Homo sapiens: one gene and its partner. The protein of the gene in region 2 purifies or fractionates together with the protein of the main gene of each other region. This does not show direct contact. Each region holds a gene or a part of one and is shown on either strand. Other genes may lie near its edges.

Evidence for each region.
Region 1: the proteins of USH1G (region 2) and POTEF purify together in Homo sapiens (affinity purification with mass spectrometry; 2 studies listed by BioGRID and IntAct, with this or other methods). This does not show direct contact.

What each region holds. Positions count from the first base shown.
Region 1 is NC_000002.12:130,072,848-130,077,338, forward strand, and holds the end of POTEF (POTE ankyrin domain family member F), read right to left. Parts: intron 4,355-4,491; coding exon 4,234-4,354; intron 2,726-4,233; coding exon 1,397-2,725; 3' UTR 688-1,396; downstream 1-687.
Region 2 is NC_000017.11:74,915,583-74,920,558, forward strand, and holds the end of USH1G (pre-mRNA splicing regulator USH1G), read right to left. Parts: coding exon 3,872-4,976; intron 2,495-3,871; coding exon 2,491-2,494; 3' UTR 501-2,490; downstream 1-500. UniProt on the Homo sapiens protein: Plays a role in pre-mRNA splicing by regulating the release and transfer of U4/U6.U5 tri-small nuclear ribonucleoprotein (tri-snRNP) complexes from their assembly site in Cajal bodies to nuclear speckles, thereby contributing to the assembly of the pre-catalytic spliceosome on target pre-mRNAs.

The DNA of each region.
Region 1 (4,491 bases), on a different chromosome or scaffold from region 2:
GCTGACTAGAAATGTGATCAGGGACTGACGTAAACAAGAGTCTGGCCACGTTTTTGTAGCGTGGCTGTGCTGTGCTGAGGTACCTCTTCCACCCCTTGTCAGCTTGGGCTCTCCAAAGCCCGCAGGCCAGAATGGCTAGTCACCGAAAGAGCAAAGGTGGGGGCCTGCCCCTCTCCGGGAGCTCTGTCCCAGGAACATTTCACATTTCCATTGGCCAAGGAATGCTGGTGGGGGTAGCTGGAGGCCCCAGTTGGGAGGTCCTGTCCAGTGAGGTGGAACAGGATCAGGGGCCTGCTTACAGAAGCAGTCTGGCCATGATTTGGTAAAGCAGCTATGCTGTGCTGTGGGATCTCTTCTGTCCCTCGTCGGTTTGTACTCTCCAAAGCCCGCAGGCTGGAATGACTACGTTGCCTGAACGGGAAAGATGGCGGCCTGCCCCGTCTTTTCTCTCAGAGTTTTATCTTGTTTCGTGGAGCTTAATTTTTAGCCTGTTGATTTTACTGTCTTCATTAGACTTGTTGAGAAAGAATCTGTTCTCTTTTAGGTGAGATAAATGAGAATTCATTGTCTTCTGTAAATAAACCTGTTCATGTCTTGTTCTCTGGAAAGAAGTCTCTTTCAGCTATCTGACTTTGGTCACAATCATGTAGAGCAGCAGCCAGTCTACAATGACGTAATTGAATTTCCATTTCCAGTGTTTCCTCGTTGTGTCTTACATTGTCCAGTTCAGAACTGAGCATTTTATTCTCAGTTGTCAACATGCTAAGCTGTCCACTGTACTGAAATACTGTGCTTCCTCAATTTGTTTTAAGGTGTGCACTTTTATCCAACTCTCCTCAAGTCAGAGTACAGGTAAGCCCTGGCTGCCTCCAGCCACTCTCAGGGAGACCAAAAGCCTTCATACACCCCAAGTTGGGGTACAAAAGAGGGGGGCCACGAAGGCTGATCATTCAAAATAAAACAAAATTAAAAAGTATTAAGGCGAAGATTCAAAAAATTTTGCATTATGTAATTTGCACAAAAGCAATGCTATCACCTCCCCTGTGTGAACTAGGGAGAGGACTGGGCCATTCTCCTTAGAGAGAAGTGGGGTGGCTTTTAGCAGGGCAAGGGGCTTCCTGAAACAATGCGTCTCACAATATTTGGAATGACTATTGAAAAGAAGAACAAGGTACAATCAAAGTCCTTGGCCACATTGTAGAACTTTGGAGGAAGCTTCCTCCAACCGACTGCTGTCACCTTCACCATTCCGGTTTTTAAATCCTGAGTCAAGCCAATAAAAAACAAAACAAAAAATGAAACAAGAAAACAAATAAAGCCATGCCAATCTCATGTTGTTTTCTGAGAAGTTTGGTTTTGTCAAGAAAGGGTGTAACGCAACTAAGTCAGAGTCCACCTACAAGCATTTGCGGTGGACAATGGAGGGGCCTGACTCATCATACTCCTGCTTGCTGATCCACATCTGCTGGAAGGTGGACAGCGAGGCCAGGATGGAGCCACCGACCCACACGGAGTACTTGCGCTTGGGAGGAGCAATGATCCTGATCTTCATCATGCTAGGCGCCAGGGCAGCGATCTCCTTCTGCATTCTGTGGGCCATGCCAGGGTACATGGTGGTGCCGCCAGACAGCACTGTGTTGGTGTACAGGTCTTTGCGGATGTCCACATCAGACTTCATGATGGAGTTGAAGGTAGTTTCATGGATGCCACAGGATTCCATGCCCAGGAAGCAAGGCTGGAAGAGCGCCTCGGGGCAGCGGAACCGCTCGTTGCCGATGGTGATGACCTGGCCATCGGGCAGCTCGTAGCTCTTCTCTAGGGAGGAGCTGGAGGCCACCGTGGCCATCTCCTGCTCGAAGTCCAGGGCAACATAGCACAGCTTCTCTTTGATGTCACGCACGATTTCCCGCTCGGCCATGGTGGTGAACCTATAGCCATGCTCGGTGAGGATCTTCATGAGGTAGTCAGGCAGTTCCCGCCCAGCCAGGTCTAGGCGCAGGGTGGCATGGGGGAGGGCATTCCCCTCATAGATGGGCACAGTGTGGGTGACCCCGTCACCAGAGTCCATCACGATGCCAGTAGTACGGCCAGAGGTGTACAGGGACAGCACAGCCTGGATGGCCACGTACATGGCTGGGGTGTTGAAGGTCTCAAACATGATCTGGGTCATCTTCTCGCGGTTGGCCTTAGGGTTCAGGGTGGCCTCGGTCAGCAGGACGGGGTGCTCCTCGGGAGCCACACGCAGCTCGTTGTAGAAGGTGTGGTGCCAGATCTTCTCCATGTCATCCCAGTTGGTGATGATGCCGTGTTCCATGGGGTACTTCAGGGTCAGGATGCCTCTTTTGCTCTGGGCCTCCTTGCCCACATAGGACTCTTTCTGATGCATGCCCCCCATCATGCCCTGCTGCCTGGGGCGCCCCACGATGGAAGGGAAGACAGCCCGGGGGGCATCGTCGCCCGCAAAGCCGGCCTTGCACATGCCAGAGCCGTTGTCAATGACGAGCACAGCGGTATCATCATCCATGGTGAGCTCATTCAATTGTAGAGCCTTTAAAAGATTATCATTCCTTTTTTTCACACTTTCAATATCCTCCAAATATTTCTTTTCTCTTAGCTGGCTCTGATGTTTCATTGTGTCTAGCTCCAGTCTTAGCATGGCAATTTCTTCCCGCAACGTACTATTTTCATGCAAGATGTCTTTTTCTTTCTTACAACTAAGAGAAAGCTAAGTAAACAAAGAGAACTTTTAGTTAGCACTCAATAGATTGACATATCATGATTTCTTCTGAAATTCAAAAATAACATGTATTTGTATAATGAAAGAATCCCCATAGTGGATATTTAACTGGAAAAAAATTGGACAAAACTTCAAACCTAATAAGAGTGTAAATTCCTCCAGTGATTTATTTTTCATCGTCTTTAAATAAATATTTAAACTTTTAGGAATCTGCTCCTAAATTCCTAAAAGTTTAAATATTTATTTAAAGACGATGAAAAATAAATCACTAGAGGATTTTTAAGAATCCCAGAATTAAAAAAAGCCTTTTTTCTGAGTTACAAAAAACCCAGAGGCATAAAATATAAGATTAATAATTTGACTACATTTTTAAGATTAGGTTTACACTCTGATATCTAACCTATCAACCACACCATCCTAAGAGCCTTAGCTATGCATATATTTGGACAGAAGCAATTTCTCAAAGTTCTTTAAGTTTCTTTTACTTAAGAACGTTTTACCGATATTCTACATTTCTAATATTTCTATACTCAGTTATAAGAATTACATTTATTTATAACTGTCAAATAAGCACTGTACCCTTCTACACTGTACACATCTGTATCTAGGCATTGCTCTTCTACATATAATACTGAACTCATTTAAGATCGCGATTCTTAAAAGGAGAGGTCAAAAAATATACACAGATGCAGGATTTTCCCCAGGTCTGCTGATGCTACTTCTAGTGATCCTCCACAAAACCACACTTACTTCTGTGGTGTAAATATATAAATACAAAAGAAACCTTTTGTTTCAAAATATGAATGGTAAATAAGATACAACTTATAGAGATTTTCTTAGAAATCATGAGATTATTTGCCATTGCGGTAACTTTTATTTCCTCTTTATAATGTTTGAAACAGTAGTAATGGTGAAATAGGGGAAATATACTGAACTATTTCTCCAGAAAGAAAATACTTATCAATAAATTATTACTAAATGTGTATCATGGCATGTCATTCTTTTCAAACCTCTTTACATTGAAATGAGAAACTACTTGGAGCAAACTGTTCCTCTCTGCAAAAGTAAGGATAATGGTATCCACAATGTGGCCTCTGACCCAGCTATACATTTCCTACTTTCTTATCAGTAAAAATAATCAATTGACTTCTCTATTAACATTTTTTAAAAAACTAATGTCCAAAAACGAGAAAATCTGTTTTCAGTAGCAAAACTTATTTCTGATGTGGAAAGATCATCAATTCTTATGAAAAATATCAAATACTTCTCCTTTGGATTGAGGCCATTGTGCAGGTCACTACTCAACTGTTGCAGGCAAATGAAGGTGAATTAAGAACATGGCTTTATCCTATACGTACGTATATAGATATATGACAAAGGATATATAGAATATATACACACATATATATGACTTAAAAATCCTTTATATTTCCAAAATACAGTTCTTTAAAATATACACACATATAAAAACATTTGAAAATAACTAAAGAAAATACCTCAGAATTCATTTTTTCAACCACTTCTATCTGCTTTTCTTCATGAATCAGAATCTCATCGTGTAATATTCCAGTGTTCTGTTCTTCACAAAATTGCTTCTGAGTATCATTTTGTTCGTCACTAGAAGAAATTTTAATTTTCATGAAATACTGGAGCTGTCCCTAAAATGATGTACAGGGCAAGATGGCGCCATCAGATGTCATTCACACAATGCATATCTGCACATTATTCCAAGACAAGGCAAAGGGGTCTCACAT
Region 2 (4,976 bases):
GGCTTCAAATCAGGCTGCCCACGAGCTGCCTGCGGTGATGAGGGACATGGAGACCCCTCTGGGCCTCTGGAGGGCCCTCATGGAGACCCCTCCAGAGGCCCAGAGCCCAGGTGACAGGCAGCAGCCTCCTGGAGTATGTTTCTGCCCATCTCTGGAAAAACCCAGGTAGGCACTGGTGGGAAGAGAGAACATGCATCCTCCTGCCCTCCGTAGCTGCAGGCCCTGGCAACAAGCCTGGAGGCTCAGCCATCCTCCTTGCTCAGGGGGACTCTCCTGCCCTAGTTCTCAGCCCTGCCTCTCCACCAGCTCCTAATTCTGGGCTGAGCTAGGAGAGCAGGTAAAGGCCTAGGGATCCCTGCAAAGATGCACAGCATGGGGTCTCGAAGACACTCCAGAGAATAGGACCCAGTCCTCACAAGCGCAGAGCAGACCCCCTCCCGCCCCCACCCCCACCCTTCCACTCTTCACTCTATCCCCAAAGCATTAAAGGACAAGACAGGTACGATACTGATAGAGAACATTCTCTACAAAAGTGGCAATGAGCCTGCAGGAGGGATTCGGGGTACAGTGGTGGGAGCACAGAGCCTGCTCCACCCCAGCACCAGAAGAACCAGGAGGGGCTGCGGCAGTAAACGGACGAGGAACAGGAGAGAAGGGGCAGCACCTGGGGCTCTGGGAGAAACAAGTCGGCACTTGGGGGTGGCCCCAGGCTCAGGCCCAGAGAACAGGGAGAAGAGCTGTGGTGGGCTCCAGATGGCGGTGGCAGGCAGCCAAGCCCTCAGTGTCCTGCAGTAGGACAGGGACCATCTCCTCCATGCCCCCTACTCTGGGCACATGTGTGGGAATGGGAACCCCCAGACAGACCAGAAAGAGGCCTTTGAGGGCTCTCTTTCCCCTGCCCCAGCCATGGGGGCCCCAGGAGATGCTGGGGGCTGAGGCCATGCTCCCAGCAGGAGCTGCTTCCCAAGCTGAGGTCAGGGATGGGGGGCCATGGCTGAGAAAGGAGGAGAGCACCTCTGCATGGGGTGCAAAGGGGCGCACACGTGTCAGCGGGCTCATCAGGGACTCTCCCACATCTGTGACCTCAGTCTGGCTGGAGAGCTTTGGGGGCATACGTCAGAGGACACATGCTGTGACCACCCTCTGAGCTGGCCTTTCCCCTGGTCTCACCACCATCAGAGGGCTGGGACACAGGTGAGCTCTCTTACCCCCGATCCACGCAGAATCACGCAACAGCCCAGTCCCTACCAGACCTGGAGGGAAACCTACCAAACACCACCCAACGTGAGTGTGCACACACGCACACATGCACACACACACACATGCATGCACACACACACATGCACACACATGCATGCACACACACAAACACGCACGCGTTCACGTGCACACACACGCACACATGTATGCAAGAACACACACACCCAAGCACACACCCGTGCTCACACATACCACATACTTACACACACATGCATGCACACACGCATACATGCACACAAACATGCACACGCACACAGCCCTGGTGACCTGGGGACAATCTGCAGTTTAGAGGATCCACTTTCTCCAGTGTCCACATCGCAGGACTTACCCACCCCAGGCCTGACACCCAGCCACACCCTGTTCTGCCTGTCCCAGGCCTGGGAGACTGAGGAGGTTGGCGGACACCTTTCTCTAGCCCAGCGCATGCCTGCCAGGCCTGGGGGCTATAATACTGCAGCCCATTGGTCTAGCACCTTGCATCTAGCGCCCTGGCCCTCTGGGGTCCCTGGGGGGCCAGGCTGCACAACGAAAAAGGGGGAGGTTGGAGGAAGACAGGCCAGGCTCCACCCCTGGATGAGCTGGGAAGGGCGTCAGTACCCCCACCCCACCCCAACCCGGCTTTCCAGCTCCGGGCCTTGACCACTAGGTGAAGGAGGGGGAGCTGGCTATGCTTGGGATGGGGTACAGACTGAAAGTTGGGGCATTTGGCTGAAGAGTCTGGCTGAGGAACTTCCCCTCTGGGGTGGACGGGAGGAGGGGAGGCAGCCCAAACTCTTCCCTTCACAACAATGCAGGAAGTGAGCAAGTCTCTGGCCTGAGCACAAGAGAACAAGACCATCAGGGGAGGGGTGGGAGAGGCCACGGCGCCCGGGACAGGTGCACCCTCCCGCATCCACCTCCCACACTCTCATCCAGTTCCGATGCCCCTGCCCTCCCTCTGGGGCAGGCCTCCCCCAAGTCTACATGTCCTTTACGGCTGCTCAGAATGGGTGGCTCAGGGCCTTCAAGACCCCTCAGAACTGGAGTTCCGGAACATTCTCTTGCCCCTCTGGTGCCTCCAGGCCACACCCTCAGCTTCAAGGTGCAGACAGACTTTCAAAGGAGTCGCCCCAACTGGTCCTTGCTCCTGGGGAAGGGGGCTGCAGGGCTGGCAACTGTGAGGACCTCGAGACCCCACCATAGGTTGTGGCAACTTGCAATTCATTTTGGTCTGGGGAGAGGAGCCCCCGGTTATCTGTGGAGGAAGAGACAGAAAGAAACAGATCTCACATGAGGCCCTCCAGAGGCATCATTTTCACCCAGGGCAGCCATCTGGACAACTTAGCCTCCCCATCTCTCGGCAGGCCAATTGTCAGGGATGGGGGACGCCAGCCTATGGGTGACCTCCCCATCCCCAAAACTCTGAACCAGCCTGCCTCCCCACACCCATCCCTGCCCCAGCCATTCAGGATAACGGCCATAGATACCTAAGAGGAAATGAGGACAAAGTTTGTTGGGCCTGTGGGATGCCATTGGGGAGGGGCCAGGGCAGGGGCTGGCCACAGCATGACCATTGTGGTGGCAGCCTTGGGCAACTATGACGGCCTTTGGAACATGAACTCTGCCTCCAGGGCTGCTGCTGACCCTCTTGGGAGCATTTGCCCACGTTCCTGATTGCAAAGTTCAGGAACAGTAGGTAAAACATCTCCCTAAGGCCAGGCGCGGTGGCTCACGCCTGTAATCCCAGCACTTTGGGAGGCCAGAGTGGGCAGATCACTTGAGGTCAGGAGTTCGAGACCAGCCTGGCCAACATGGCAAAACCCCATCTCTACTAAAAATACAGAAATTAGCTGGGCATGGTGGTGCACTCCTGTAATCCCAGCTACTCAGGAGGCTGAGGCAGGAGAATCGCTTGAACCCGGGAGGTGGAGGTTACAGTGATTGTGCCACTGCACTCCAGCCTGGATGACAAGAGGGAAACTGTCTCAAAAAAAAAAAAAAAAAAATCTGCCTGAGGTCTTGGGCAATTGAGAGGCCCTGCTGACTGCACGCCCTGCATCCCATGGCAGCCACCTTGACCCCAGGCTCTAAAGCCATGCAGACCAGGGATCAAGCCTAGCTCCATGCTGAGCAGCAGCAGGACCTTGAGGTGAGCTATTCTAACTGTCTGAGCCTCCACTTGCTCATTGGCTGTAAAATGGGAACGATATAATCCACCAATATAGTCCAGCGCACACAGGCTTTTAGAGGGATTAAGCAAGAGGACTTGTTCAAGGGCACAACCCAGCACCTAGGAGGTGGGAGGGCTCAAAAACACCCCAGCTGTGATTCCTGTGACTGTTGAAATTCATTGACATTAAGAGGCCCATTTCCCCACTTGTCGATGTCCCCAGAATCGAGGTGCACTTTCACTGTGATAAGAATGCCTCGGGTCATCATTAAATTGGCCACTTCTTTTTCTGAGCTGGTGGTAAATAAAATAAGGGTGCCTTTTATCATCGATGGCCTCATTTCGATTTTATGAAATACAGTATCCCCCACCCCCTACTCCTGAATAGGCAGATCTGTACCCCCTCCCCAGGGGCCTTCCAACTCCTGCTCCTCCATCCCCCCCGCCAGGCTGGACACTCACAGCTCTGTGTCCTCCAGGGCCGGCGGGCGCTCCATCGCCTGCCGCCGCCTCCTCACGGCCCCCAAGATCTTCTTTCGGGGCCCCAGTGGGACGCTGATGCTGCGGAGGTCGAGGTCAGAGCACAGCATCAAAGCCTCGAGGTCGATCTTCTCCTGCCGCAGGAGGGCGGCAAAGTCCTCCATGTGCAGAGAGGCCAGGAAGGTCTCCAGCGGGCTAGTCTCGGGCTCCAGGTCCTCGTCCAAGCCTAAATCGAGCTCATCCCAGGGCAGCTCCTCCCCACAGCTGCGGTCCTGCAGGCTGTTGGCACTGCCCAGGCTGTCATCGTCCAGGCTGGGGGAGCTCTGCAGCCGACCCCGCGGCGCTCCCACCCCATCCAGACCCCCATCCTCGCGGCCCAGTCCGTGCAGCCCACTGCTCAAGTAATTTCTGCGGAACACCATGGTGCCCAGGCCGGGGCGGGTAAACAGGGAGTCGTGGCCTGAGTCGGTGCTGACCTCCGAGTGGGCAGGCTCGGCCGCCAGCGTGGCACGGGAGACGCTGTCCTCGTCCGAGAGGAACATGTCCCGGAGCGGGGCTCGGCCCCACTCCTTGGGATTGGCGTAGGTGCCCTGGCGCACGAACATCACGTCGCTGCCCAGCTGCAGGCCCGAGAGCGAGCGGGCGCTCTTGCGCCCATCCTCGGAGACCTTGAAGGTGCCTTCGCCGCCCTGCTTGCGCCGCTCCAGCTTCTTCTGCATCTTGGTCTTGCCCCTGGCCGTGCCGTGCAGCGTGGCCTGAGAGTACGGCAGGTGGCTGCCCAGCGCCAGATGCTGCAGCCGGCGGCTCAGGGTGCTGGACGTGAGGCTGGAGAAGCTGAGGGTGTCGGAACGCTCGGCCAGCTCGCGCCGGTATCGCCGCTCCATGCGTTCGTGGTGCCTCCGCTGCAGCTTGGCGCACTCGCGGATGCGCCGCTCCGCCTCGCGGAAGGCCTTGTCCTTCAGCTTACCCACCAGCTTGGGGTTGAGGCTGCTCTGCTTGGCCGCGATGGAGTCCAGGTAGCGCACGCATTCCATGTGGCCCTTCATGGCAGCCATGTCCAGCGGCGTGTGGTAGTCGTTGTCTAGGC